Homo sapiens: one gene and its partners. The protein of the gene in region 2 interacts with the protein of the main gene of each other region in a biochemical or structural test. Each region holds a gene or a part of one and is shown on either strand. Other genes may lie near its edges. The genes, in order: MAGI3, PRKN, USP30, MAGI1, MFN2, ARRB2 and EIF4B.

What was found.
Region 1: the proteins of PRKN (region 2) and MAGI3 interact in a test that uses a peptide from one of them, tested with the Homo sapiens proteins (one large-scale study listed by IntAct).
Region 3: of the proteins of PRKN (region 2) and USP30, one has a biochemical effect on the other in vitro, tested with the Homo sapiens proteins (one study listed by BioGRID).
Region 4: the proteins of PRKN (region 2) and MAGI1 interact in a test that uses a peptide from one of them, tested with the Homo sapiens proteins (one large-scale study listed by IntAct).
Region 5: of the proteins of PRKN (region 2) and MFN2, one has a biochemical effect on the other in vitro, tested with the Homo sapiens proteins (2 studies listed by BioGRID).
Region 6: the proteins of PRKN (region 2) and ARRB2 form a complex in vitro, tested with the Homo sapiens proteins (one study listed by BioGRID).
Region 7: of the proteins of PRKN (region 2) and EIF4B, one has a biochemical effect on the other in vitro, tested with the Homo sapiens proteins (2 studies listed by BioGRID).

Annotation. Positions count from the first base shown.
Region 1 is NC_000001.11:113,641,678-113,646,007, reverse strand, and holds part of MAGI3 (membrane-associated guanylate kinase, WW and PDZ domain-containing protein 3), read right to left. Parts: intron 4,098-4,330; coding exon 3,492-4,097; intron 2,266-3,491; coding exon 2,234-2,265; intron 1-2,233.
Region 2 is NC_000006.12:162,437,285-162,441,614, forward strand, and holds part of PRKN (E3 ubiquitin-protein ligase parkin), read right to left. Parts: intron 1-4,330. UniProt on the Homo sapiens protein: Functions within a multiprotein E3 ubiquitin ligase complex, catalyzing the covalent attachment of ubiquitin moieties onto substrate proteins. Substrates include SYT11 and VDAC1.
Region 3 is NC_000012.12:109,076,033-109,080,362, forward strand, and holds part of USP30 (ubiquitin carboxyl-terminal hydrolase 30), read left to right. Parts: intron 1-4,330. UniProt on the Homo sapiens protein: Deubiquitinating enzyme tethered to the mitochondrial outer membrane that acts as a key inhibitor of mitophagy by counteracting the action of parkin (PRKN): hydrolyzes ubiquitin attached by parkin on target proteins, such as RHOT1/MIRO1 and TOMM20, thereby blocking parkin's ability to drive mitophagy.
Region 4 is NC_000003.12:65,377,549-65,381,878, forward strand, and holds part of MAGI1 (membrane-associated guanylate kinase, WW and PDZ domain-containing protein 1), read right to left. Parts: coding exon 4,329-4,330; intron 3,579-4,328; exon of another isoform or gene 3,501-3,578; intron 2,007-3,500; coding exon 1,713-2,006; intron 1-1,712. UniProt on the Homo sapiens protein: Plays a role in coupling actin fibers to cell junctions in endothelial cells, via its interaction with AMOTL2 and CDH5. May regulate acid-induced ASIC3 currents by modulating its expression at the cell surface.
Region 5 is NC_000001.11:11,997,444-12,001,163, reverse strand, and holds part of MFN2 (mitofusin-2), read right to left. Parts: intron 2,395-3,720; coding exon 2,286-2,394; intron 2,177-2,285; coding exon 2,069-2,176; intron 1-2,068. UniProt on the Homo sapiens protein: Mitochondrial outer membrane GTPase that mediates mitochondrial clustering and fusion. Mitochondria are highly dynamic organelles, and their morphology is determined by the equilibrium between mitochondrial fusion and fission events.
Region 6 is NC_000017.11:4,713,249-4,717,578, reverse strand, and holds part of ARRB2 (beta-arrestin-2), read right to left. Parts: intron 2,593-4,330; exon of another isoform or gene 2,567-2,592; coding exon 2,536-2,566; intron 2,394-2,535; exon of another isoform or gene 2,243-2,393; intron 1,607-2,242; coding exon 1,546-1,606; intron 1,433-1,545; coding exon 1,388-1,432; intron 1,168-1,387; coding exon 971-1,167; coding exon of another isoform or gene 908-970; intron 363-907; coding exon 303-362; intron 1-302. UniProt on the Homo sapiens protein: Functions in regulating agonist-mediated G-protein coupled receptor (GPCR) signaling by mediating both receptor desensitization and resensitization processes.
Region 7 is NC_000012.12:53,033,587-53,037,916, reverse strand, and holds part of EIF4B (eukaryotic translation initiation factor 4B), read right to left. Parts: intron 4,112-4,330; coding exon 3,883-4,111; intron 3,306-3,882; coding exon 3,208-3,305; coding exon of another isoform or gene 3,193-3,207; intron 509-3,192; coding exon 295-508; intron 1-294. UniProt on the Homo sapiens protein: Required for the binding of mRNA to ribosomes. Functions in close association with EIF4-F and EIF4-A. Binds near the 5'-terminal cap of mRNA in presence of EIF-4F and ATP.

The DNA of each region.
Region 1 (4,330 bases), on a different chromosome or scaffold from region 2:
TTTAGGTTATAAAGATGGCACTGTGAAAACCCTGTCTGGCCAATTCACATATATTAAGAGAAAATGTACCATGCAAGACAATTAGATAAGGGAAAGCATAGTAGCATATTTTGATATTTTTCCTATTCAGCTAGAACTTTCCCAAGATAACAGCCAAGCAAAATGACTTATTTAATAAAATGTTAACAATGAAATCCAATAAATGGCCTAAGAAATATGGTTTTGAGACCAGCTCGTTTTCCTGGATTATTGTTAGGAGAGGGAGATTATGGATGTTTGTGATCATTAACAATGACTAGAATGCAGGGGCACCAGTCTGTCAGGGAGTAATCAGGGGTCAGCCACTACAAAGTGTCGTGCTAGAGGGGACCCTTCAATCACCCAGACCCAATGAGAAGGCAGAGAAGCTAACAGTAGTCTCCTACCCTTCCCCATACATCTTAGCATTCTGTCAGAGGCGGTTAAAGTTCATCAGACCCTTCCATCAATTATAAAGCATTAGGGCCACTGCGACTGCAGTGGCATCCATTATGAAATAAATATGGTGGCACAGGAGTTAAAAATGATTACTAGAGGAACCAGAGAAATGTAGAATACAGTGCAATTTGAACTGAATGGACAAAAACAATTTCTGTTCACACTGGACCCAAGTAGTATAAGCAGTCAATGAAAAGGGCAGAAGCTGGCCGGGCGCAGTGGCTCATGCCTGTAATCCCAGCACTTTGGGAGGCCGAGGTGGGCAGATCACCTGAGGTCAGGAATTTGAGACCAGCCTAGCCAATGTAGTGAAACTCCATCTCTACCAAAAATATAAAAATTAGCTGCGTGTGGTGGCGTGCACCTGTAATTCCAGCTACTGGGAGGCTAAGGCACAAGAATTGCTTGAACCTAGGCGGCAGAGGCTGCAGTGAGCCAAAATCACACCACTGCATTCCAGCCTGGGTGATGGAGTGAGACTCTGTCTCAAAAAAAAAAAAAAAAAAAAGGCCAGAAGCTGAGGGATTCTTTTTAATCTATAAAACAGCAAATTTGCAGAGGATTCCTACTTGGTGGGCTAGAAAGAACTAATTCATTTAATATAATTGTCTATAGTTTATGGTTATGGAAGGCCATCTTTTGATTTTGAGATAAAAGACTCCAAAGGAGCAAACTAGAACTAAATTAGAATTTTAAATAAAATTGTCTTTATATCCAAAACATTGTGGATATTTAAATAGCTACAAATGTGCACCTTGTAGAGTTTCTTCCACAACAGCAGCATTTGATGCACTCCTTTTTAAAGTTCTTATTCTCTGCACAGGTCCTTAAACAGGCTACGTGATTATTTAGAAGAATGCCAAAGAAGACACTGTTTCAGGTCTTTCACTTTGACAACAAGCAAATTTAGCATAGAAGGCCACAATTACTCTAGAAAGTCTTGTTTAGTCAGCCGGACGTGGTGTATCATGCCTGTAATCCCAGCACTTTGGGAGGCCGAGGCGGGCAGATCATGAGGTCAAGAGATTGAGACCATCCTAGCCAACATGGTGAAACCCTGTCTCTACTAAAAATACAAAAAAATTAGCTGGGTGTGGTGGCGTGCACCTGTAGTCCCAGCTACTTGGGAGGCTGAGGCAGGAGAATCGCTTGAACCCCGGAGGCGGAGGTTGCAGTGAGCCGAGATAGCGCCACTGCACTCCAGCCTGGGCGACAGAGCAAGACTCCGTCTCAAAAAATAAATAAATAAATAAAAAATAAATAATAAAAAAATAAGCCTAATTTAGTCTTAAAAGTAAGAAGATTATCTAAAGGTGCATGCATATTTATAGTCCCCACAAAATTATGTGAACTAGTACGTCTTCTCTTCAGGCAGGGGCAAGACGATGTAATAGTTTATCATCTGTCTTAACATTTAGGTCCTTCCTACCTTGTTTCTCTGAAACACAAAAGTAAAAAGACCTCTAGGTTGGTTCTTTAATGTGTTCACATTTTATAACTTAGAGAACAGGATTATTGGTACAATAGGCCTTTAGTAATCCTCCAGTTGCAATACTTAACCAGTGGAGCACATCTCCTCACTAGGGGGCTTTTTCAAACGCTTCCCTAGTTTCTAATAAATACAAGCCAAGGGCAGCATGCCTCCTAACTTCTCCCAGTCGATAATCATCACCACAGTGAGCTCCTCTTACAGAGGGGAATGTGGCATCTCTCTCAGTGTGTTGGGGAAAAGATTTGAGGACCAGTGTATACTCACCATTTTGGCAGTTTTGGTTGGTGAAGGAGGACCTTAAAAAAAAAATGAACCAAAGTTTAAAACCAGAGGATGCATTCCCAGATCACAAATACTGCTAATGTTTACGATAAAACTAGCTTCAACTTTTAGTACGCTAGTAAATTCTGTGTCTAACCTCCTATGTACCAGGCATTATACATATATTATCTCATTTCATTTTTATAACAATCTGAAGGCACAAATGTTATGACCATCTTACAGAGAAGGTAAACTAAGATTCTTTCCTATACCAAAGAACCAGTAAGTGGCAAGGCAGGAAACTGACATCAAACCTGTGTGACATTGAACTTTGGTGTCTTTGTTATACTTGTTGAAGCCCTGGATTACTCTCAAGCACTCACAAAGAGATTTCTACCTTACTTGGAGCACATTCCACCATCACTCAGAGAAGAAACCCATGTGAATCAAAGAAACGAGAATAAGAAACAACTCCCAAAGAAGCTGAAGTGCTCGTTTGCCTCAATAGTGAAAAGTAAAATCCAGAGAGATAAAAGAGTAAGTGGCTTTTATTCTTTAAGATACTAGTCACTTATAAGTATGGATTTAAGAAAGCATATTAAAATTCAACTTTGTGATTATTCCTTGGAACTGAATTTGTAAATGTCTGGGAGGAGTTCATGTCAGCTGATGACCTTGGAAAATAAAAATTATATTTCTCTCACATAAGCACTGTGTGGTTTAATTAACATTTACAGTCAGATACTAGAGCTTAAGATGAAAACTTTATGAGCACATGCTATCATGATTGCCTCTGCAGAACAGATTAATACACCATCCAACATTTTACTTATCCACAGAGATGCTAGCTCTTTCAAAACATCTTTGGTGCATTACAGAGGTCCAGATGACACACCATTGGTTGAAAGAGTCAATTTCTATTACTGTCATCAACAGAGAAATGAAATTAAGAGGATGTATTTCATTTGAAGTATCACAATGCTGTGACTCTCTCTAATCATTAAAGCCATGAATCAGATTTTCAAAAGAATACAGAGGGAAATAAATCCATAATGGACATGAATGAAATCACTAATAATTTTTTAAAAACTGCTGAAAAAGACACTGCTTATGGAAACAATCAGACAGAACCTTAAGGAAAATGCACACTAATTACTAGTTAAGTCTGCTGGGAAAACACATTCTAAACTGTAAGGAAAGACAATCAGTAGATATAAACGCTTGAACACTGAAACTTTTTCTATGTTGTGCTTTTACTTACCTCCTCTTAAGATAAGCAATGGTACATCAGCACCTACTGGAAACTGCTTTAGCACCTCTACCACTTGGAGATGTGTTAAATTCTGCACATTTTGATGGTATATTTCCTTAATTATATCTCCTTTCTGAAGGCCTTGACACCACTGACTATCCAGTATCATTTTCACCTTCTGTCCAGTAGGGCTGTCAGCAATTGCAAACCCAAACCCTTTAGGGCCCTTAATCAAAGGGATAGTCACTAGTTCAGGCTGGGAGCTGCCTGACGATGCCATGGATACTCTCTGCTCACTTGCATCTGATGGTCCATTGAGACCATCACCAGTCAAAGTGTGTCCCGATTTTCCATTCTGCTCCAGAACCATTGCTCCTGGCTTAAAATCCTGAGGATTCATGCAAGTCTCTCCCTTGGTTAATGACTGTCCATTGATGACAGGGGTAGCAGCAACAATGTCCACAACAGGATCTTCACTGTCATCAGGAAGTGGATAACCACGACATAAAGTGAGGTTTACATACTGATTGACAGGTACCAATTGAAACATCTGGACAACATCTGCATGAGTGTGACCGAGGACACAGTTGCCATTGATGTCTACAATAACATCGCCTGGAAAAACATAATCATGTTAAAAATATTAAAATCAACAAATAAGTTAATTTTTTTGCTAGAGGGGCAAAAATAACTACAATTTAGCAACTAAATTTGAATTTTGGAAACCTCTATTAACTGCTGAAAAGATAGATTTCTAACACAGACCTTCTCCCTTTTCTAACTCCTCTCTAAAATGTATGTATAAATGTCTAAAATCCTACTTATTTCAGTAGCAAAGAATTTTGACT
Region 2 (4,330 bases):
ATAGCAAGCTTATTTTCTAAGAAAGTGATAGTTTCAATTCCTCTGTGAAAGTGGACAGATATCCTAGGTTTTTTTTAAATTCAACTTTATATTAAAATGCTTACACATTCTAACGCAGTTGTAAGAGATAGCAGAGAAAGATGCCAGCTACCTTTTCCCCAGCTTCCGCCAGTGGTAACATCTTGCCAAGCTAGACGTTATAATTGTACTATAAGCATTGTTACAGTCAGCACAGAGGACGGCCGTCACCAAAGGGTCCCTTCTGTTACCCTTTCACAGTCGTACCCTCCTCTCACCTGCTTCCACCCCCTTCAGAACTGCTGGGAAGCATGAATCTGCCCTCCATTTCTATCATTTTGTCGTTTTGAGAATGTTATATAAATAAAATTATTCAGTGTACGATCTTTGGGGATGGGCTTTTTCCACACAGCACATTTCCCCTGAGATCCATCCAAGATATTTTGTATATCAACAGTCGGCTCCTTTTTTACTGCTGAGTAATATTCTAGGGTGTGGAGGTACCAGTTTGTTGAACCACAGATCCACTGAAAGACATCAGAGTTGTTTCCGTGTTCTGCTAATGTGAATAAAACTGCTATAAACATTCATATACAGATTTGTGTGTGTACCTACGTCTTCATTTCTCTAGGATAAATAACTAAGAGTATAACTCTGTCATCTGGTAAATACATATGTCATTTTTTATGAAACTGCTATATTCTTTTCCAGAGTGGTTCTACCATTTTATATTCCCAGTAGCAATTTGCGAGTAATCCAATTTCTCCACATCCTCACCAGCATTTGGTGTTGTCTTTATTTTGTATTTTAATTTACCTACTTTACCTATTACTCTAGATATTTCTTTATACATTCTTAACTTGTCATGCTCTACTGCAGTTGCTATTTTGTAGGTCAAGTTTAGAAATCTTACCTTTCCTTGCATCTGTGTTTATGTTTGCCTGAAATGTTTCTTCTACATGTAGAACTACATTAGACAATGCTATAACTTTTGCTGCAACCCTCTAACATAATTTAGAAAACTCAAGAGGAGAAAAACAGTGCATTGTATTTAACCATATTTTTGCTTACTATGTTTTTCCCTCCTTCCTAGTGTTCCAAAATTCCTTTTTTTGTTGTTTCATTTGTTTAGAAAATTTCTTTAGCCATTCTTTTAGGGTAGGTCTGCTGGTGACAAATTCGCTTAGTTTTTCTTTATCTAAAAAAAAAAGTATTGATTTGTTCTTTCTTCCTGAACGACATTTTCACTGGGTATAATATTACAGGTTGGCAGTTCTTTTCTTTCAGCATTTGAAAAACATTGTGCCACTTCCTTCTAGCCTTCATGGTTTCTGATGAGAAATCCACTGTAATTAGAACAATGTTAGCCCTATAGGGAAGGTGTGATATTTCTCTGGCTTCTTTCAAGATCTAAAATTTGTCTTTAGTTTTAAGAAGTTGAATTACGTTGTGTGTTGGTGTGGGTTTCTTTGGGTTTTTCCTGTTTTAGATTCACTCAGCTTTATAAATCCATCTATAACTTTATGTCTCTTGCAAACTTTGGAAGTTTCCAACACTTATTTCTTTGAGCATTTGCCCACCATTATCTTCTCCTTCCAGGAATCCCCTGACACAAACTTTAAATGCTCTGTTGGAGAACCACAGGTCTCTGAGGCTCTATTCCTTTTTTCTTTTTCCAGCCTACCTTTTCTTTGCCATTTGGACCGTGTCATTTCTATGTTCCAACTTCCAGTTCACTGACTCTTTTCTCTGTTCCTTCCATTCTTATGTCAAACCCATCAGTGAGTGTTTTATTTCAGAAATTTCAAACAAGAGGCTCTCCACTCAGCCTTTACTAGTGTTGGTGGGGACAAGGATAGGGCCGCAGTTTTTCTGTTGCATTTGGCTGGAGTAGACTGGTTATTGTCTAAATGTTTTCTATGTTGCTAGGCAGCCCCTTTCTGAGTCCTCTGGATAAAAAACAGGCCATTGTTGGGGATTTCTTCCTTCCTTCCTTTCTTCCTTTTCCCTTCCCTTCCCCCTTCCTTTACCCCTCCCTTCTCTCTCTCTCTCTCTCTCTCTCTGCCCCTCCCTTCCTCTCTGCTTCTTTTTTCTTCTCTTTTCTTTTTGTCTATATATGTTGACATTTCCTGGTTGCCAGCTTCTTCAGTTCCACATCTGAGGTAACGTAGCAAAAAGAAAACTCAAGAAATTCACCTCTGGATTCTTCCTTGGGTTCTAAAATCCCTACTCTGTCCACATTCTTCTCACTACTTTCAGAATCTTCCTAAGCTTGTACAGCGGACCCTTGAATAACATGGGTTGAAACTGCATGGGTCCATTTATATGCAGATTTTCTTCTGCCTCTGCCACCCCTGAGACAGTGAGACTAACTCCCCCTCTTCCTCTTCCTCTTTAGCCTACTCAACATGAAGACAAAGACAATGAAAATCTTGATGATCCACTTCTACTTAATGAATAGTAAGTATCCTCTCTCCTTTTTGTAATGCTGTTAATGTTTTCTCTAGTTTTTTTATTATAAGCATACAGTACATATTACATATGAAAAATATGTATTAATCAACTGTTCATGGTATCAGTAAGGCTTCCCGTCAATAGCAGACTACTGGTAAAGTGTGAGGGGAGATAAAAGTATACATGAGTTTTGTCTACATAGCGGTTGGCACCCCTAACTCCATGACTCCACGAGTCAACTGTACAATATGCAATGTCTAGGCTTTTTAGTGTAGTTGCTGGGAGGAAGAGGGAAAAGTATGCCTACTCCAGCTTCCCAGAAGCAAAATCTGTGCCAGATCATTCGTTTTCAATGTCTATATTTTTTCCATTTTCCTTTAATTTTTTAAAGTTCTTAAAGTCTTGCCAATAACAAAACTGAACAGATGAGTGTGTAATGAAAATAACTATACTCTAACAGTGCTTCTCTAAGTGGCCTGTGGATATGCTCTCCCAGAACTGAAAATTCTATGAAAATTTTTTAGATGTGACATCAATTCTATTATAATCTTACAAATACCCTTTGCCAGTTAAATAGACAAACTCGCTTTTTAAAATTATGACATTTCATAAGACTGTGGTCTCAAGCTATAGTTCCCCAAAGTACCTGAGGTGAGGCACTAAAACTAATTTCCTCCTCAAAGAAGGTGAAACTAAGTGTGAGAGATACTGCTCAGTATGTGGGGTGACCATTGCCTCAGTTTTCCTAGGACACTCCCAACATATAATTTTGTCCTGGAATAATTATTGACAGGGTCTTCTTTTATACTCACAATATCTCATTTTGCATGATAAGCTAATATATATGTTCATATCACCTATGATAAAGAATACGAAACCAGGAGGAAGACACCCAGCAAGCATAGACACCACCCCAGCCATCTCTTCTTCTCTTCAGGACACCAAGGTGTATATTTAACATTCATTAATGGAAGCATTAAGTAGCTCATATGGAAGGTCCATCTTCTTTTTCTCAGCAGCAACTTATTATTAGATATTTTGTGCTTATACTGTGAAATATAGCACCTGTAATGATAATGGGTAACTAAATGATATTGACTAAATAGTTGTAAACATATGTTCTAAGATTATACAAGAATATCTAGGATGCTAAAATTCTGCCAGTTGTACACTTAAAGAAAACATAGCCATCAATTTGCAATTACATGTGTAACTTCCTAGTCTTTACAGTGAAACTCTTCTATGAACAAAGTTTGCCAACTTCTCGGCACCTAAATCATTTAACTGTGATTTAATAGAAGTTCCATAAGTATGAACCTTTCTTTTTCAGTGTCCTCAGACACAAGTTCTCAACAGCCAGCTAGGCATCTCCAAACACACGTACTCAGCTGGCATCAACTCCCATCATGTTGGAACAATGCAGCATCCTTCCCCCAACCAAACCGGGTCTTCAGACTTCCCATTTCCTTCTATGGCATGACATTTTTCTCTAGTTCCCCACCAATGAAACTTCAATGCCAAGTTAGTCAAGGTTATGTGAAATATAGCCCATATTTTATTTTTTGTCCAATCTTCAACATCTCTCTTCAGGTTCTAGAAGAACAAGAACCCATCCTTTTTGGCAAGCATTCTCTATGCTCATTCCCCTATTCCTCCATCTACAGAATCCTACCTCAACTCAATTCATCCAAGAAGTTCTTCCTGGTGACTTCCAACCAGATGTGTTTTCTCCACCTTTAAAACTTCATAATATTTTCAGGTGCGATACGGCAGTTATGTTTCATATTCTTATATTATAGCTATTAGGTTGAACAACATGAAATTGTTGAACCTGTAAAAATGGCAATCCCATATGGTT
Region 3 (4,330 bases), on a different chromosome or scaffold from region 2:
ACATTACCTTGAAGACTAATATGTTGAATGGTCTTTTTAAAAATAAGGTTCATATATTAAAAGATATGTAAGATATGTTAAGGAACTGTAATCTATAAGTTGACTATTCATCTCTTTTTTCCGTGCATTATTTTGATACTATTGTAAGTGGAATTTAAAAAAATTTATTTTCAAATTGTTTGCCACTAGTATATAGACATACAGCTGTTTATATATTGACCTTATATCTTGAGATTTTTGTAAACATTCATTTATTACTTCTAGAAGCTGTAGAAGTTTTGTTATGTATTCCTTAGCATTCTCTGTGTATGCAAACAGTCATGTTGCTTATGAATAGAAATAGTTTTAGTTCTTCCTTTCCAACCCAATCTTTATTCCTTTTTTTTTTTTTTCTTTGCCTTATTATCCTGGCTAAGACTTATGGTACAAAGTTAAATAAGAGTGATGATGGCAGACATCTTTGCTTTGTTTCAAATCTTCTGAAGCAAGTATTTGGTGTTTTATAATTAAGTATGATATTAGCTTTAGGTTTTAGTATACCTCTTTATCATACTGACAAACTTCCCTTCTGTTCCTAGTTTGCTGAGAATTTTTGTAATGAATAGTGATTGGATTTTGTCAGTTTTTTCTGCATCCATTGAAATGATCATATTTTAGTCTTATTCTGTTGACTTGGTGAATTACAGTGATTGATTTTTTCTTTTTTTTTTTTTTTTTGAGACGGAGTCTTGCTCTGTCGCCCAGGCTGGAGTGCAGTGGCGTGATCTCGGCTCACTGCAAGCTCCACCTCCCAGGTTCACGCCATTCTCCTGCCTCAGCCTCCCGAGTAGCTGGGACTACAGGCGCCCGCCACCACGCCCGGCTAATTTTTTGTATTTTTTAGTAGAGACAGGGTTTCACCGTGTTAGCCAGGATGGTCTCGATCTCCTGACCTCGTGATCCGCCTGCCTCAGCCTCTCAAAGTGCTGGGATTACAGGCATGAGCCACTGTGCCCAGCCAGTGATTGATTTTTCTAATGTTAAACCAACCTTTCTGGGATAAACCCCACTTGATCATGATGCTTTATTGTTTTTATATATTATTGAATTTGATTTGCTAATATTTCCTAAAGGATATTAGTATCTGTGTTTATGAGGAATATTGTTCTTACACTTTTCTTCTCTTGTGATGTCTTTGTCAGGCTTTGTTATAAGGATTATACTAGCCTCATAAAATAGGCTGGAAAATGTTCCTTCCTCTGTTTACTGAAAGATTTTGTTTAATATTGGTATTATTTCTTGCTTGTTTGCTAAAATTTGTCTTTTCTTTAGCTCTATTTCTGCTAATTTTTTTTAAACTTTGTTATTGGATACAAGCATATGTATTATGATGAGTTAACTCATCTTGTCATGATAAATTGTCCCTCTTCATCTCTGCTAAGACTCCTTGACTTGAAGTCTATTTGAATGATTCATTTTTAATCTAGCTAATGTTTATTTGGTCATTTCTTTCTGTCATTTTCGGCCTTTGTATTTAAAGTGTGACTTTGTGGACAGCATATAATGGGTCTTGCTTTTTTAACTAGCTTGACAATCTTTTAGTTGGAATGCTTAGTCCATTTACATTTAATGTAAGTATTGATGTGATTAGATTTAGGTCTGCCATTTTACCATTTGTTTTCTGTTTGTCTTACATATTTTCTTGTTCCTCTGTTCCCCCTTCACTGGCTTCTTTCAGGTTAATGGAATACTTTTTAGTATTCCATTTTAATACCTTTGTTGGCCTTTTAGCTTTACTCTTGTGTGTTTGTGTTGGGGGGGGAGGGTGTGTGTGAGAGATTACGTTATGCAGTTTTACCTTATCACATTCTATTTAGAGTTAATATTATACTTCATGTAAAATCCTGGAATATTACAAAAGTATAGTTCTGTTACCCCAGCCTTTGTGCTATTATACATACATTATAAACCTCACAATACTGTGTCATAGTTTTTGCTTTAAAGAGTTATATGTGTTTCATTTCATTTCCTTTGGATATATACCTGGAAGTGGTATTGCTAGTTCATACAGTAGTTCTGTTCTTAACTTTTTGAGGAACCTCCTCCGTACAATTTTCCATAATAGCTGCACCAGCCAGGTGCTGTGGCTCACGTCTGTAATCCCAGCACTTTGGAAGGCTGAGACGAGTGGATCACGAGGTCAGGAGTTCAAGACCAGCATGGCCAACATGGTGAAACCCCGTCTCTACTAAAATTACAAAAATTAGCTGGGCCTGGTGGCGGGCGTCTGTAATCCCAGCTACTCGGGAGGCTGAGGCAGGAGAATGGCTTGAACCCAGGAGGCCGATGTTGTGGTGAGCCGAGATCACGCCACTGCACTTCAGTCTGGGCGACAGAGTGAGACTGAGTCTCAAAAAAAAAAAAAAATAGCTGCACCAGTTTACATTCCCACCAGTAGTATGCAAGAGTTGCCTTCTCTTAAGAGGCTGAGGCAGGAGAATTGCTTGAACCTGGGAGGCAGAGGTTGCAGTGAGCCGAGATCACACCACTGCATGCCAGCCTGGGCGACAAAGCGAGACTCCATCTCAAAAAAAAAAAAAAGAGTTGCCTTCTCTTCTACTAATTAATTAATAGAAAAATATGTTTACCATTTTTCTTGTTCTCAGTCTTTCTTGTAGATCAAAATCCATTTGATGTTTTTTCCCTTTTGGCCTAAAAACTTCCTTTTAACATTTGTTATAGGTGTACTGCTGACAGATACACTTAGATTTCATGTATATGAAAATGTTTTTGTCTTGCCTTCATTTTTGAAGAATACTACTGCTGGATATAGAACTTTGGGTTGACAGTGTTGCCGTGGTTTTGCTTTGGTTTATTTTAAATTCATCACTTTAAGGACATTGTTCTATTGTCTTCTGGCCTCCATTTTCTCAGTTAGTGTCATTTATATCATTCTTGTCTATGTAAATTGTCATTTGTTTTTCTTCTGCTTACACTGCTTACAAAATTTTCTCTTTATTTTTGTTCATGCTGCGCATAGATGTGGTTTTCTTAGTATTTATCTTATTTATCTTGTTTGGGGTTTGCTGAGTTTCTTAAATTTGTACTTTTTTTAACCAAGTTTGAAAATTCTTGGCTGTTATTTTTTCAACAAAGATTTTATGCCCATTTTTCACTTGTTATTTTACTTAATGTTGGCCCACAGGTCACTGAGGTCTTGTTCAATTTTCTTCAATCTTTCTTCTGTGTGTTCTTTAAATTAGATCATTTCTATTGACTTATCTTCACGTTCACTGATTCTTTTTTCTCTTTTTTTCTTTTCTTTTTCTTTTTTTTTTTCTTTTTTTTTTTTTTTTTTTTTTTTTTTTGTGACAGGGGTCTTAGCTCTGTCACCGAGGCTGGATTGCAATAATGTGATCATAGCTCACTGCAGCCTCAACCTCCCAGGCTCAAGTTATCCTCCCACCTTAGCCCCCTGAGCAGCTGGGACTACAGGTGTGTGCCACCACACCCAGCTAATTTTTTTTTATTTTTTGTAGAGACAGGGTCTCACTGTGTTGCTCAGGTTGGTCCTGAACTCCTGGGCTCAAGTGATCCTTACACTTCAGCCTCCCAAAGTGTTGGGATTACAGGTGTGAGCCACCATACCTGGCCTGATTCTTTTTTCATCTCCAATCTCTGTTTGCCTATGCAACAAATTTTTCATCGTAATCACTGTTGTTTTTAGTTATAGAATTTCCATTGCCTTCTTTTTAATAGTTTCCATTGTTCTGAGATTCTCAATTTGTTCATTCACTGTCACTGTATATTTTCCTTTACATCCTTGAGCATATTTATGATACATCTGTGAGGTCCTCGTGTGCTGACTTCTTTGTATTTTATGTTTGGTAATTTTTTATTGTATGCTTAACATCATAATAGAGACATAGAGAGTAGGGATTCTGTTACATATCTATGAAGAAAAATTAATTTTCTTCTGGCCTGCAGTTAACCTGGCTGGGCTCAAACTCAACTCTGTCTCCCCTACATTGGGCAGCAAAATCTCTGCTCAGTTTTTTTAGCTTCCAGCTGCTACTTTTTGCCAGGCTCCCTGGAGTTTCCCCCTGTGCACGTGTGGTTCAGGGATCAGCCCTGGAATTGAACAGAGTTTAGGTATAAACTTTGGGGCTCATCCCCTCTGTGTCTCCTTTCTTCCTGGCATTTCCCCTGGTCTCTCCACCAGCCCTGATTCTTGAACTCTGTCGTCTGACCACTCAATCCTGTAGGATGCTGCTTTTCGCCACCCAGCACCACATCAACCAGGAAAAAAAGCCACAAACACACAAATCTCGCCCACAGAGTTCTGTTTTTC
Region 4 (4,330 bases), on a different chromosome or scaffold from region 2:
CTGACAATTCTGAAATAGTTAGGAACGTCACAGGATGCATGGAGACAGTCAAACTGTAGATCTGAAGAAAATAATTTGGGATTTCTTTCTCCCCTCTTCCTTCTCTTTATTTTTATATTAAGCAAGAAAGTCTCTGAAATTAATTTTAAAACAAAACCAAAAAACCTTGCTTTGATGTCAGGTCATCCATCCATGACATGCTATGATGACTTTATTAATGTAGCTCAAAAAGCACTGTTAGTAATAGGCGTTTGTTACTGCAGCCACACATGCATAGACCTGGCTGAGTCACTGTCCCCTGTTAAACATAAAACTTACGGGGAGACAGCTCCAGCAGGAAGCAACACACCAGGATTAAATGGAGGCCAAGTGAGCTCTACTGGATGAGAATGCTAAAGGGTTGTAGCACCTTGCTGATTCTAGCCAGTTTCCATGTGGATAAGTCATTCAGGGATAGAGCTGAGGTACATGAAAAGCCCACACAGCCTGCACAGCCCTTCCCCTTCTCCCATTGTATTCCATAGTAAGTAACAAATGTGCTTGGGAGATAACAAATGACTTTTTACCCAATCAGGAAGGTGGATCATTTTTGGAGTGTACATCTATAATCAATCCATTGCAATGGGAAGCAGATTCATATATCACTAGTTTCTGCAATCATCTGGGTTTCTATTGGTCTTTGCTAGTGTACCCAGAAGAGAGTGAATCCTTCTGAGAAAGTGACAACTGTGTTTCTCCATACTTTGCTGAAACCCTCAATGTCTGGACGAGACAGGAAAATCGAATGACTCTTAACTCAGATTTTAACCAGACTTTAAATCAAGCAACAGTAAAAATATTATTTAAAATTAAAAAAAATTCCTATGGGGATAGAGTAGAGAAAGAACACAGATGAGGCAGACTAGCATCTCATGTAGTATTTTTACTCCTTACACCTCTGTTTTTCCTAGAGCATTTTTACAGCCGTATGCTCCTTGTAAAAACTCTTAAGACATTCTTAAGACCATTCTGAGGCCCTTGCAATTAGTGCTATCCTATTCAAGACCTTTCGAAAGCCTTGCTTTGGCAAAAACTGTAGACTCTGTATGCTGTCCAGGGGTTCCTATTCAAATTTCTTTTCTTTCCTTTCCTTTTCTTTTTTTTTTTTTTTTAAGACAGAGTCTCGCTGTGTCACCCAGGCTGGAATGCAGTGGCACAATCTCGGCTCACTGCAACCTCCACCTCCCAGGTTCAAGCGATTCTCTTGCCTCAGCTTCCCAGGTAGCTGGGATTACAGGCATGCACTACCACGCCCAGCTACTTTTTGTACTTTTAGTAGAGACAGGGTTTCACCACGTTGGCCAGGTTGGTCTCAAACTCCTGACCTCAAGTGATTCACCCTCCTCGGCCTCCCAAAGTGCTGGGATTACAGGCGTGAGCAACAGCGCCCGGCTGCTATTCAAATTTCACGCAAATCTGATGTATGCTTTAAGTTGTGTATGCGTGATCACATTCTCAGTGTGGAAGTTGAAAGGGTTGAACAAATATTCCCAACCTTCAAAAGGGAAAAAGCTACCAAATCAACTCCATCTCCAATTAAGTCTTTAATTACCCAGAGCAAGAAGCTATAAAGCATTTCTGCACGTGAGGTCTGAGTCAGCTTTCACTCGCAAGAGAACAAAAACTCCCAGGCATGGTGGGAAACCCTGGGTAATTTCACGTTCAGCACTCACCAAAGGTCGTGCCTGCTTCGGGCCTGCTCACCGAGGACACGATGACGAAGCCGAAGCCCTCGTTCTCCCCGCGCCGGATCTCCACGTCGTAGGGCTGCACCACGGTGCTGACCACGCCGCTGCCCCCGCCGCCGCCACTGCCGATGCCGCTGGTGCTGCCGCTGCCCGAGCTCACCGTGTTCAGCGAGTTCTGGCTGCCCTGCGGAGTGCGCTTCTCTTCTGTCAGCGAGGCCGGCTGGTTGCTACTGTGATGAGAGGAGGCTGGCGAGGGCACCTCGTTCTCGGTTTTGGGCACTGTAGCAGAGAGATGCACGCGTACATCACCGTGTCCTGCAGCCCCTCCATCCTGCTGCCCCTCCCTCCTTCCAGCAACTCCTGCTAGAAATCAAAACGTGAACCGAGGGGAGGAGACAGCACCTGGTTTCACAATACCTGGATATACGGATTGAAAGCAGCTTCTCTTGACAAATATTAACCATTCAGTATCTACGAACATTGATCCCACCTAACACCAAATGGGACTCCCAAATAGCGTTTGTTGTTTATAGCATGCTATATGTCGACATCCACACTCAGAATCAAGTCTGCAGCAAGATCGGCCTGCTGTGAAATATTTCCCCATTGCACAAAGGGAAGGGCCTAAGCGTAGGTGAGGGCTACACCCGTGAAGACCGCCATCTTGGCTTCATAGATACAACCTTGGATGCACGTTCACATTGTCATTACTTTCCAGTCACATTTCCACCCAGCTTTTTCCATCAGGCGACAAACAGTAAGGTGATGGTAACGTTGAGGCTACCCGCCCTATGTGGGGTTCATGACAACACCTGTGAGACATACACATGCTTCTCTTCTTAGCTTCCAGGTGTCAACATCGACTCTGATCACAGAACTGGATACACTGGCCTCCTTCTGAATTTAGTCACCGTTCTAGTGTTACCATCAGACTGCAAGGTAAAGCACTCCTAAATAGCCAACACCGTAGGTGGAACCAACTATGCCAAAAAACAAAATGTGTGTTGTGTCCAAGTTTTGGATCAGACTGTATTTATTTCCAAAAGCTTCTCTTTTCATAGATTGTTTTAATTTTGGAAAAATAAGCATAACAAATTTTTAAACCATTTTTAAGCATACAGTTGAGTGGTATTAAGTGCATTCACATTTTTGTGCAACCATCATCATCATCCATCTCCAGAATTTTGTCATTTTCCCAAATTGAAACTCTGTACTCATTAAAAACTAATTCCCCTTCCTATTTCCTCCACCCCCCACCAACCATCATTCTGCTTTCTATCTCTATAAATTTGACTACCCTAGGTATCTCATATAAAGGGAATCAATATTTCTCCTTTTGTGACTAGTTCACTTGCATAATGTCTCTTCATAGATTTGACACGCCTTTTACACAGAGCTAAAAATCCAAAATATTTAAGATTTAAAAAAATAAACCTGAAACAACAAAAAAAATCACATTGCCTTACTATTTCTATTTGGGCCAGGGAAGCGAGATAGTTAGTTTTCATCTCATCTCAAAAACTCGTTCCAGCTGACTGCTTTTAGCTACATGGAATAGTATGTTAAGAAGGATTGTGAGGTCACAAACACACTGGAATTTAACATCTTAATTCTATAATTAATCATATACCATTTAAAATGGGTTATACTCTTTTTTTTTAAAAGAAGTTACCAATTAATTTTATCTGACAGGTATCTGTTTCACTAATATGAATGCCAAGAGAATTCATAATATTTCAGGTCATATTTCTCCAGTAATTCCACTGATAGAAGACAATCACCTCTGCTGCACTCTGGGTTCTGCCTTAAAGGTTTCAAGGTGGGAGCTGCATCCAAAGGTGAACAACCAAGGTGTGTTCAACGTGAGCTTTCAAGGGAAAGGACAAACACTCACACAATTCACTGTCTCAAAATGGCAGATTCTGATACAGCAGTAAACCATGAGTCACTAGAATGGCAAGGAGGGAATGCTAAAATCTGAAGGCAGTTGGAGGAAGGAGGAATTTCCAAGGGAAGAAAGTTATATTTGAGCTGAGCCTGAAAGGATATGTAGTATTTTGAGAATTAAAGTTCAAAGCTTATGGGCAGGAAGAAGGAATCAAAGCTGACCTAGAACTGGCCAGCTCTACAACTTTCTTGTAGAAAGAAAAAAAAAAAATCTTGGTTTAATACATAGGACAGTAAGAAATCAGTAACTTTTTTATGAGCTTATTTTGTAGCACAAACCCGATTTTTGTTCCCTTGATATGAAGCTACAACTCTTCTGACTTTCATAATGACCTCATTTGCTGAGGATTAGCATCAAATGAAGAGGATGGCTAAGTTCTGATTTGCAAGGAGATAGAAGGGAAGTAATATATATTCAACTAGCCTTCCTCTGGAAGCCTTTGTTGAACACATGCAAACGGCACATTAAAGTACTTTAGAATGACAGTAATTTTTGCAGGGTTTGAGAGAAGCAAGCCATCTGGAAATTCTGAGCTTGATCACATTTGCAAACATTTGCTAAAATAGACGCTCAAGGAGGCAGACACAGGAAGGAGGCCTTTTCTGTGAATAAAGTGACAACGCACTGTCTGAAGGAATGAATGAAATACATACCC
Region 5 (3,720 bases), on a different chromosome or scaffold from region 2:
TGGCAGGCGCCTGTAATCCCAGCTACTCAGGAGGCTGAGGCAGGAGAATCACTTGAACCTGGAGGCGGAGGTTGCAGTGAGCCAAGATAGCACCACTGCACTCCAGCCTGGGCGACAGAGTGAGGGAAAAAAAAGAATAGGCAATATATTCACATGGCTCAACAGCCAAAGGCACAAACACATACACAGTGTAATGTCCCCCACTATTCTGCTCTCTCACCACCAAGTTTCCCAGACCAACGTGTGGGGGTTACTTGGCAGTGAGCGTGCCAAAGATATTTTATGCATATACAAGCAGAAATGCTTAAACGTGCCCTAGACTGCCTCTTGTTAAGCCTATATAGTGCCTCATTTTGGTGCCCTGGCAGGAAAGGAACCCTGAGGTCAAGAAACCTAAATCTGGGACCTATACTCTGACAAGCTGTGTCCTCCTGGGGCATTGTTTATAAAAGGAGTGGGCATCACTAGAACATCCCTCCTGGCTCTGACATCCTGGGGTTCTACCGATAAAATGTGACAATAGCTTCTTGTAGACACCTACCACGTGTCAGGTGTTTTTGACAGATTTCATCCTCTCAACAAGTCTATTTATCACACCATCACACTGGCCAGGAAATTGGATTACCAGAAGGGTCAAGGAAGCTAACAAAGTCACACTGCCTAGTGTCAGTCACAAGCGGGCACAGTGGCTCACGCCCGTAATCCCAGCACTTTGGGAGGCCGAGGCGGGCGGATCACTTAAGGTCAGGAGTTCAAGACCAGCCTGGCCAACATGGTGAAACCCCATCTCTATTAAAAATACAAAAATTAGCCAGGTGTGGTGGCGGGTGCCTGTAATCCCAGCTACTCGGGAGGCTGAGGCAGAATTGCTTGAACCCTGGAGGTGGAGGTTGCAGTGAGCCGAGATTGTGCCACTGCACTCCAGCCTGGGTGACAAGAGCAAAACTCCATCTCGAAAAAAATAAATAATTTGGACTCTGGCCTACTGACTGCAACTGCATGTTTTATCATCCCATATTGCCATATTATCAATCTTATTACCCTTTATTTGTTTAATTATTTTTTGTGAGACGGAATCTCACTCTCTTGCCCAGGCTGGAGTACAGTGGCACAATCTCAGCTCACTGCAAGCTCCACCTCCCGGGTTCACGCCGTTCTCCTGCCTTAGCCTCCCGCGTAGCTGGGACTACAGGCGCCTGCCACCATCACACCCGGCTAATTTTTTGTATTTTTAGTAGACACGGGGTTTCACCACGTTAGCCAGGATGGTCTCGATCTCCTGACCTCGTGATCCGCCCACATCGGCCTCCCAAAGTGCTGGGATTACAGGCGTGAGCCACCGCGCCCGGCCTACCCTTTATTTTTTTGGAGATGGCGTTTTGCTACGTCGCCCAAGGTGGTTTCAAATTCCTACTCTCAAGGGATCCTCTCTCAGCCTATAGGTGTGCACCACCATGCCGTTTGTTACCCTTTTGTCTTTCATTTCACATATTTAAAGAGTTGTGAGGCCAGGCGTGGTGGCTCATGCCTGTAATCCCAGCACTTTGGGAGGCTGAGGCAGGTGGATCACCTGAGCCCAGGAGTTCAAAACCAGCGTGGGCAACATGACAAAACCCCGTCTCTACCAAAAATACAAAAATTAGCCAGCCTCATAACCCAGTCTCTAAATAAATAAGTAAATAGCTAAGAGTTGTAAGTCACCAGTAAGAACCAGTTATTCTCCATTCCTCTTTCCAGCCTCTTTCCCAGAGGCCTCCCTAGAGCTGAGCCTGTTCTGTATTAATTCCTCAGAAACCAAACTGAGCACCGGCACTGAAGATGCACTAATGCAGCAGGGATCCTTTTTAGGCCTAGGGGAGAGTGGCTTGAAGAGGGGGTGCATCCAGCAAAGTGGATGGGAGAGGGGAAAGACCACCAGAAGATACCACAGAAGAGTATTTGGAGAATTCTTTGGCAATAAAATTAATTCAGGGAAGTCACTAGATCCAGGGGTGCAGGAAGTGGCCCCAGTGGCAGGCAGTGCTCCCTCGGGGTTGCATTCCCCAAACTGCCAAACAGAAGCACGAACCTCCTCCATGTACTCGGGCTCTGAGGCAGATGCATCCCAGCGGTTGTTCAGGATGAAGATGTTTGGCCGGGAGAGACGCTCACTCACCTTGTGGAAGAAGTGCTTTTCCTAGATAAAGGGTAAGACCTCGGTGGAGCAGGAGCTTGACAGCCAAGGCCCCATCAGCTGCCTGCCCAGGGGGTGCTGGGAGCTTGGGAGAAGGCAGAGGAGGAGTTACCGTCTGCATCAGGGTGGACTCTGAGTTGGCCACCAGCACAAACACATCAGCATCCAGACAAAACTTGTCAATCCAGCTGTCCAGCTCTGTGGTGACATCAATACCAGGGCTAAAGGTGACAGGGGTAAACCAAATCATCAGGCAGAGCAGGAGCCCTATTCTTCCTGCTGAGAACAGACCTGGGACTTGTGAGGCAGGCAGGTCATGGAGGAGAAAGCCAGGGACGGGAGAGAAATCAGGCCTGGCCCTCATTAACGGATTTTACTTCCCATTTCCTATCCTTCCAGATTGCCTGGAAATGAGTGTTTTGTTTTGTTTTGTTTTGTTTTTGGATATAGAGTCTTGCTCTGTCGCCCGGGCTGGAGTGCAATGGCACGATCTCGGCTCACTGCAACCTCCGCCTCCCAGGTTCAAGCGATCCTCCTGCCTCAGCCTCCCAAGTAGCTGGCACTACAGGCACGCACCACCATGCCCAGCTAATTTTTTTGTATTTTTAGTAGAGACAGGGTTTCACCATGTTGGTCAGGCTGGTCTCGATCTCTTGACCTCCTGATCTGCCCGCCTCAGCTTCCCAAAGTGCTAGGATTACAGGCATGAGCCACCGTGCCTGGCAGAAATGAGTGTTTTTAAACACATATATCTATTGCTTTTATAAAAACAGAATTACTTGTAATTCTACTTTAAAGATGATATACCAGGCGGGGCACAGTGGCTCATGCCCGTAATCCCAGCACTTTGGGAGGCTAAGGTGGGCGGATCATGAGGTCAGCAGTTCAAGACCAGCCTGGCCAACATGGTGAAACCCCGTCTCTACTAAAAATACAAAATTTAGCCAGGCATGGTGGCGGGCACCTGTAATCCCAGCTACTCCAGAGGCTGAGGCAGGAGAATCACTTGAACCCGGGAGGCGGAGGTTGCAGTGAGCCGAGACTGCACCACTGCACTCCAGCCTGGGTGACAGAGCAAGACTCTGTCTCAAAAAAAAAAAAAAAAAAAAAAGATGATATACAATTAAGGTGAAGTTGTGACTTGATGTGAGTCCAGATAAACACTACAATACTGTACATGTTGGTATAGTTATAACCAGTCCACCAAGCCAAGGCAAAGTGTTTCTTCAAGGGAAATAAAATACACCTCTGACTCCGCCACAACTCCCCACCCCCAGTACACATGCTGGCACTGGGCTGAGATTGAGAACCTCCCCCACCAACTTTTGAGCATCCCTCCTATCTTTTACAGACCATCCCTGGGACATCTGCAGGGTACTGATAAATAGGTATAGTAACCAGACTCCAGAGGAAAGCCAAGAGGCCAGAGGATTTGGTTGAGCCCATCTGAAAGGTAGTAATACTTAAGCAGAGCAAGGATGGGGCCCAGGGACCCTGGCCTAGATTATCCAGAAATGGAAACCTGGTGCCTTCCAGTTTGGACCTCC
Region 6 (4,330 bases), on a different chromosome or scaffold from region 2:
GTGGTCTCACGACCCTGGGGACTAAGTCTTCTTCCTCTCCAAAGCCCAGAACCTGGCAGAGGCTTGGTCATGGTAGTGCAAGGGGAGCCCCCATCCCCAGATCCATGCGGGTCCACAGAGCAGGAGGCAGTGTCATGCGTGCACAATGACCACCACATACGCCCCACTTCCACGGGGGACACTGGCCTACCCTCGGCCCCACCCTGGCATCTCGACAGTTCACCCTCTGGCTCAGCTGTGCCTCCAGGCTCCTGCTGGCCCATGTCCTGCCCTAGGAGCCCTCAGAGCTGTTCCTCCCGTACCTTTCCTGTATCCTCTGGGCCTGGCTGCAGTGTGACGGAGCATGGAAGATTCTGGGGTATCTGTGGCGGAGGAAGGAGAAGACTTCAGTTCTTCCAGAAAGCCCCCAGATCTTCCTCCAAATCTCAACCTAAGAGGCTGGAGACGCTGGGTGTGGTGGCTCATGCCTGTAATCCCAACACTTTGGAAGGCTAAGGTGGGCGGATCACCTGAGGTCAGGGGTTCCAGACCAGCCTGACCAACGTGGCAAAACCCCATCACTACTAAAAATACAAAATTAGTCGTGTGTGGTGGTGCGTGCCTGTAATCCCAGCTACTCGGGAGGCTGAGGCATAAGAATCACTTGAACCTGGGAGGCGGAGGTTGCAGTGAACCAAGATTGTGCCACTGCACTCCAGCCTGGGCGACAGAGCGAGACTTTGTCTCAACAACAACAAAAAAGAGGCTGGAGAAAGGACTCCTGGGGATGAGAAGGGAAGAAGGAAGGGGCCCCAGAGAGGAGGCAGATAATCAAGGGCTTCCTGAATGCACTGGGACCCTGAAGGGAAGTGGATCTAGGGTCCCTGCCTCACTGTTTCTTCCAGATCTGCCCACAGCAGTGCCTTACCCCCACCCCAGACACAGTCCCAGCCCCAGCCCCCTGGCCCTCAGAGGGCAGGGGCATCCTCACGGTGAAGAAGAAGGGGTGGGCATGCTGGCCCAGCTTCCTCAGCAGCCGGTCCTGCAGGCGGGTGGGGGGCCGGGGTGGGTTGGGCACCGGGGGGAAGGCCTGGTAGGTGGCGATGAACAGGTCTTTGCGGAAGGACAAGCCCAGCACATCCAGGTCTTCACGGCCATAGCGGAAGGCGCAGGTGAGGGTCACAAACACTGGCAAGGGAGGGTGAGATGAGTGGTCAGGAGCCCCACTTCCCCAGTCCCCTGGCACCTAGCAGCCGCTGCTCCTCCCTCAGCAGCATAAGACTTGCCTGAACCCTACTCCTGGCTTCCACCTCCAGCCTCCATCTCTCTGGGGCGCCCTTCCAAGGCCAGCCCATTTCACTTCCCTAGCCCCCACTTTCCCTGGGCCCCCTGGACTTGGGGCCAGTACCTTTGCGGTCCTTCAGGTAGTCAGGGTCCACAAGCACCACGCCATCTAGGAGGGGGACACACCAGCTCACTTCCTGAAAGGGCCGCTCCCCGCTTTCCTGGGCCCGGGAACTTCTTCCCCTCTTGGGGAACGAGCTGTCCCTTTCTGGGAAAACTTACCTACAGGGTCCACTTTGTCCAGGTGATCTACGAAGTCCCGCTTGCCCAAGTACACGGTGAGCTGAGGATGTCAAGGGGTCACAGGGGAGATTGGGGAGGATGGTGACAGGGCATCGGAGCCCTCAAAACTGGCTGCCCTGCCCGGGGATCTCCAGGCTGGGCTATCAGGAAGGAGTTGTTCCAGGTTTCCTCCCAATAGTGTTGGAAAGTGAGGGTGGTGGCGTTTCTCAGACTAGTGGACCTTTAGGCTTTTGAGCTGCTCCTTTATCTCTGCACACCTCTGCCCACCAGCCCGGTGTGTGTGTGTTTGTGTGTGTGTGTGTGTGTGTGTGTGTGTGTCCTCAGCCAACCAGTCAGGTGTGTGTGTGAACATGTATGTGCATGTGTGTCTGTGTGTGTCCTCAGGGAGGACTCAGCCCAACCAGCGAGGTGTGTTTGTGTGTGTCCGTGTGTGTGTGTGTGTGTCCGTGTGTGTGTGTTTGCATCCTCAGGGAGGACTCAGCCCAACCAGCCAGGTGTGTGTGTATGTGTGTATGTGTGTGTGTGTCTGTGTGTGTGTGTGTTTGGATCCTCGGGGAGAACTCAGCCCAACCAGCCAGCTAGAGAGCAGCTGCCACCCTCACTAGGTCCCCTCAAGGGGCTCTAGGATAAATAGGCCATAGCCCGGGGGCTGTTAGGTTTTCCCAGCCCCACGCACCTTGGGTTGGCTCCTAGGAGGGCTACAGGCACATGGCTTGCTTTTGGCCTCCTCCTCTGTGGTCTTGCTTGGGGACCCAAGCCTGCCCCACCCAGCCCTGTGGCTGGCTCAGGCTGAGCAGCCTCTGCGGCAAGGGGCTTCAGGAGGGAAGGAAGTCGGCGCTTAGCTGTCACAGGAAGTGGGGAGCTAGGGGTTGGGGATCATCTTTGGGTAGGTTGGGGATCGTCTAGGGGAAGGCTGGGCTTTGTTGGGGCCCAGGGAGGGTCAAAAGGGTAAGTGCTGTGGAGACTCACCTTGCAGTTAGGGCTCGACTTCTTGAAGACCCTAACAAAACAGAAAGGGAAACCCCACTGCCTCCCTCAGACTCAGCAGGGACCCCACACCAGGACCCTCTCCCTCCCAGGCCTGAGAAGCAGTGCTCACCCAGGCCTCCTGCCTGAGGCTGTGGGGCTTTGCCCAGCTCTGCCCCTTTCCCCTTCTTCCCGGAAGGTCCTTCCTATTTCTAACGTGGTGGCAAGGGGAACCCTTCTTCCCGGAAGGTCCTTCCTATTTCTAACGTGGTGGCAAGGGGAACCCTTCTTCCCGGAAGGTCCTTCCTATTTCTAACGTGGTGGCAAGGGGAACCCTTCTTCCCGGAAGGTCCTTCCTATTTCTAACGTGGTGGCAAGGGGAACCCTTCTTCCCGGAAGGTCCTTCCTATTTCTAACGTGGTGGCAAGGGGAACCCTTCTTCCCGGAAGGTCCTTCCTATTTCTAACGTGGTGGCAAGGGGAAATGCCCCTTGTCTTGTCCACCCTCATTCGTCCCCTTCCCTCCCCAGTAATGGCCACTGGTTGCCCTAGGAACCACCCAGGCTCTTCCCAGAGGACCCGAATGGGCAGGTAGCCACAGTGTCTGGATAAGACCTAACCATCTTTCCATCTGGTCTACAGCTCTGACAGCTGGAGCATATAGGAGAGCAATGACCCTGGCCTTTGGCCCTCAGATAGTTTCTACCACAGGCCCTACCCAAGTTCGACTCTACTCACCTCCAACTGTCCCCAACTCCGACCTCAAGAGCTTAAAAGCCTATTTGTCTTTTAAGGCCCAGCCTTTAGGAAGCTGACCCAGCCCAGACCCTGGTCGCTCCTTGTTTTGGGTTCCTGTCACACCTTGTTTATGTTTTACTTGTGGTGTGGTAGCACACAAGGATAGTTAGCTCCCTCCCTCCTCAGACTGTGAGCCTCAGAGGCCTTATTAATTTAGGCATCTCCAGCACAATGCCAGCCATATCATGAAGATGGTAATGCTGCTAACATTTCAGAGTGACTACTCCATGCCCAGCACTGTTCCAAGTGTTTCAAATGTGTCATCTCTTGTAATACTCTGTTTTTTGAGACAGAGTCTCACTCTGTTGCCCAGGCTGGAGTGCAGTGGTGCGATCTCAGCTCACTGCAACCTCCGCCTCCCAGGTTTAAGTGATTCTCCTGCTTCAGCCTCCTGAGTAGCTGGGATTACAGGAGTGAGCCACCATGCCCGGCTATGTTTTGTATTTTTTTTTTTTTTTTGGAGATGGAGTCTCACTCTATCACCAAGGCTGGAGTAGAGTGGCACGCTGTCAGCTCACTGCAACCTCCACCTCCTGGGTTCAAGCGATTCTCATGCCTCAGCTTCCTGAGTAGCTGGGATTAGAGGTGCCTGCCATCATGCCTGGCTAATTTTTTTTTTGAAACGGAGTCTCACTCTGTCGCCCAGGCTGGAGTGCAGTGGTGCGATCTCGGCTCACTGCGACCTCTGCCTCCCGGGTTCACGCCATTCTCCTGCCTCAGCCTCCCGAGTAGCTGGGACTACAGGCACCCACCACCACGCCCGGCGAATTTTGGTATTTTTAGTAGAGATGGGGTTTCACTGTGTTAGTCAGGATGGTCTCAATCTCCCGACCTCGTGATCCACCTGTCTCAGCCTCCCAAAGTGCTGGGATTACAGGCGTGAGCCACCACGCCCGGCCGCTAATTTTTATATTTTTAGTATAGATGGGGTTTCCCCATGTTGGCCAGGCTGATCTCAAACTCCTGACCTCTAGTGATCCGCCCGCCTCAGCCTCCCAGAA
Region 7 (4,330 bases), on a different chromosome or scaffold from region 2:
CCCCTACCATACTGCCAATATGTGGCAAAAGGGAAGCCTCTGACTTACAGTATTTGCAGATTTGTGCGGCATTAGTACTCCCATCATAGCTGATTTCAAGCTATCAAAGTGGTGGAACTCCAGAAAATGGAACAACTAGGTCTTATGAGCCAGTTCCAGCACACTAAGAGACTAAAGCCAGCATAACTTATAAGGTGCTATACAACGCTGGCATCCCGTAGGAGATCTTCCATCATTACATCACAGTATTTTAGAATCTGCAGTTAACCAACTACTGTTTCCAAACTGACTCACCTTGTAGGGGACTGCTGCTCTGTGTCTGAGCTCTGAGATCGAGCAGGAGGGTTAGAACTTCGCTTCACCCAAGCATTCTCCTTTGGTGGAGGGGCTGGCATTACCTTTAGGGGCTGATCAGGTTTGGGAGGTTTAGAAGTTGGAGAGTGGCAATCTTCCTCCTTATTGAGTGTTTCATTTTCTAGAGACTTCTCACTCTCTCTCCTTCGTGCATCTGTGAAGCCAGAGTGAAAATATCAAATTATCAGGCTGCAGATGCTCACGCATCTACCAGGATCTCAACAGTGTGGAAAATGGTCCACATCCAAGTTTTGGCTCCCAAAGATGGATTTATCCCTAAACCAGTGGTTTACAAGTATTTCCAGAACAATGTCTTACTGATGCACAGAGAAATAGAAAAAATAATGACCATGTATACAACTTAAGGGACACCCAGCCATGTGACCTTTTTAGGAATGAGTATCCTTTACAGCCTTTCTGCATTCTCAATGTTAAAAGTGTCTTGACCTGGAGAATATACATATGTGAAGAGGACCTACAATGAAACCCCAAACTCTAGTAACCACTGCTCAACTTCAGCTTAAAACTCAACACACATGGACTATGATGCAATCATATTTATGAAAAACCACCTACTGGCTGGGTGCAGTGGCTCTCGCCTGTAATCTTAGGATATTGGGAGGCTGTTGGGGGCGGATCGTTTGAGCCTAAGAGTTTCAGACCAGCCTGGACAACATGGTGAAACCCCAGCTCTACAAAAAATAGACAAATTAGCTGGATGTGGCATGTGCCTGCAGTCCCAGCTACTAGAAATGATGAGGTGAGCTGTGATCATGTTGCTGCACTCCAGCCTGGCTGACAGAGTGAGACTCCATCTCAAAAAACAACAACCTACACGTGCGTTTTTTAAAAAATGCAGTTAAGTGTCTTCTAAAAACAAGGAGCCCCCATTGGGAGGCTGAGGCAGGATTGCTTGAGGCCAGGAGTTTGAGACCAGCCTGGGGAGTGTAGTGAGACCCCATCTCTAAAAAAACAAATTTTTTAAATTTAGCCAGGCATGGTTGCGTGCACCCGTCGTATAACAGCTACTTGGGATATTGGGGCAAGAGGATTGCTTGAGGCCAGGAGTTTGAGGCTGCAGTGAGCTATGATCGCACCACTGCACTCCAGCCTGGGTGAGAATGAAACCCTGTCTTAAAAATAAAAAACTAGGCCGGGCACGGCGGCTCACGCCCGTAATCCCAGCACTTTGGGAGGCCAGGGCGGGCAGATCACAAGATCAAGAGATGGAGACAATCCTGGCCAACATGGTGAAACCCCGTCTTTACTAAAAATACAAAAAATTAGCCAGGCCTGGTGGCAGACTCCTGTAATCCCAGCTACTCGGGAGGCTTGGGCAGGAGAATCACTTGAACCCGGGAGGCAGAGGTTGCAGTGTGCTGAGATCATGCCATTGCACTCCAGCCTGGGCAAAAAGAGCGAAACTCCGTCTCAAAATAAATAAATAAAATACAAAAATAAAAAATAAAAAAAATAGAAGGCCAGGCATGGTGGCTCACGTCTGTAATCCCAGCACTTTGGGAGGCCGAGACGGGTGGATCATGAGGTTAGGAGTTTGAGACCAGCCCGTTCAAAAAATTAGTCGGGCATGGTGGCGCTCACCTGTAATCCCATCTACTCAGGAGGCTGAGGCAGGAGAATTGCTTGAACCAGGGAGTCAGAGGTTGCAGTGAGCCAAAATCGTGCCACTGCACTCCAGCCTGGTAACAGAGCGAGACTCCATCTCAATAAATAAATAAATGAATGAAATGCAAGTACAAATCAATTTAGAGGTGGGAGGAAAGACCTTAAAAAATATCACAGTGGCTGGCCCTTGGAATCCCAGCACTTTATGAGGCTGAGACCAGCCTGGGCAACATGGGGAAACCATCTCTACAAAATTTTAGCTGGGTGTAGGCTGGGTGCGGTGGCTGACGCCTGTAATCCCAGTACTTTGGGAGGCCGAGTCGGGTGGATCATGAGGTCAGGAGATTGAGACCATCCTGGCTAACACAGTGAAACCCCATCTCTACTAAAAATACAAAAAATTAGCTGGGTGTGGTGGTGGGCACCTGTAGTCCCAGCTACTCGGGAGGCTGAGGCAGGAGAATGGCATGAACCCGGGAGGCAGAACTTGCAGTAAGCCGAGATCGCGCCACTGCACTCCAGCCTGGGCGACAGAGCGAGACTCGGTCTCAAAAAAAAAAGAAAATAAATAAATAAAAAATTTAGCTGGGTGTAGTGGTGCATGCCTACAGTTCCAGCTACTAGGGAGGCTGAGGGCTGAGGGAGGTGAGGCTACAGTGAGCCATCATCATGCCACTGCACTCCAGCCTGTGTGACAGAGTAAGACCCTGTCTCAAAACAAAATACAAAAAAAACACATCATGGTAAGGGAAGGGAGGTATTACAATTGAACCATTTAGGTTTCCAAAACACTAAAAGTGCTTGATCAACCAGTAATAACACTGCTTGAGAACACTGCTCTGGTGATGATAACATCAAAAAAGGCTGGTCTTGGGACAGCTCACATGAAACTCCAAGCCGTTGACTGTTCTGAATAAACAACATTCAAAGATGTCAAGACATAAAATGAAAATATACCAAAAAAAAAAAAAAAAAAAAAAGAGAGAGACAAACCTAACAACCAAGTATACACTTCAGTGGTAGATTATTAAGCAGATCATCTAGGTCTACTCTGGTACCCATTCCTCAGATTCTTTGGAGCAGAAGATATGAAACTCCAATCGGCCCATGCAACCCAAATAAAGAGTTCATGACTGAATTTAAATATTGCAGGGTCTCTGCATAATTTGGTTATGGATAGTTTATGGAAAACGGCAATAACACGATACCCACCCTGGTCTGACTTACTTCTGCTAGATGTGGTGGAGGTCCCAGTTTGTGATGACTCACTTCCTGTCCTCGACCGTTCCCGTTCCTGAGTTTCTTCACTTCGCCAGCTTGGGTGTCTGTACGAGAGATTCACAAAATACACATTATGCCTGGCTCAGTGAAGGCCACCTTAGACCCATGCTGACCCCTCAAGAACCATCACTTACTTCATCTATATGTGTATATGCATATAAATTTATCTTTCCCTCAAACTATTTGAAAGCTACAGACATTAAGACACACTTTGGCCCTAAATACTTCAGCAAGAATCAACTAATATGGTTAAGAACAGTATCCTACATAATCTACAATACTGCCCTTCTTTACTAATCAACACAGTTCTACAAGCCACTCATTACCAGGCCTAGTTTTTCAGGGCAATTACTTATTATAGTAGGTCTCTAGCCTTTTAGATACAATACCAGCTTTTAATAGTAAACACTTTTGTAATGGACAGGGAACAACTCTTCATTGTGTAAAACTGTCCCTAACACTGCATACTGCCTAACACCCCTGGCCACAGCCCACTAAATGCCCATCAGTGACAACCACTAATGTGATAACGACACAAATTTCCCAAATGCCCCTGGGGATGTAATGCCCCCATTACGAACCACCGGATTCCTAGATGGGATATCCATCAAGACAACACACCTCTCCCGAGGCCGTCGTTCTAGTTTTGGCTCATCCAGCTGACGCTGCAACTTCTCTTGTTCCTTCTGTAGCCGTTCTTCTACTTCTCTTTCTCTAGCAGCTGTGTCAACAGGCTTTGCCCCTCCAAAGATAGAAGCAGCTCGAGTGGACTGGGAGGTACTAGCAGAGGAATCATCTTCCTTAGGAGTACTCCGAGGCTTTAGATTCAGTTTGGGTCTTTGGGGGGGACCTAAGTTAAATGAAACTTTAAGTAATAGTTTTCCAATCACCAGAAGCTGATGGCTGAAAGCCAGATTTCTCAGATATAACTCCTATGAAATGCTACATGAGATTCAAGTTAGTGGCCTAACCAATCCACAGAAGGCAAATAGATCATTAGAAAACAGGTAGTTTAGGCTGGGCATGGTGGCTCACGCCTGTAATCCCAGCACTTTGGGAGGCCGAGGCG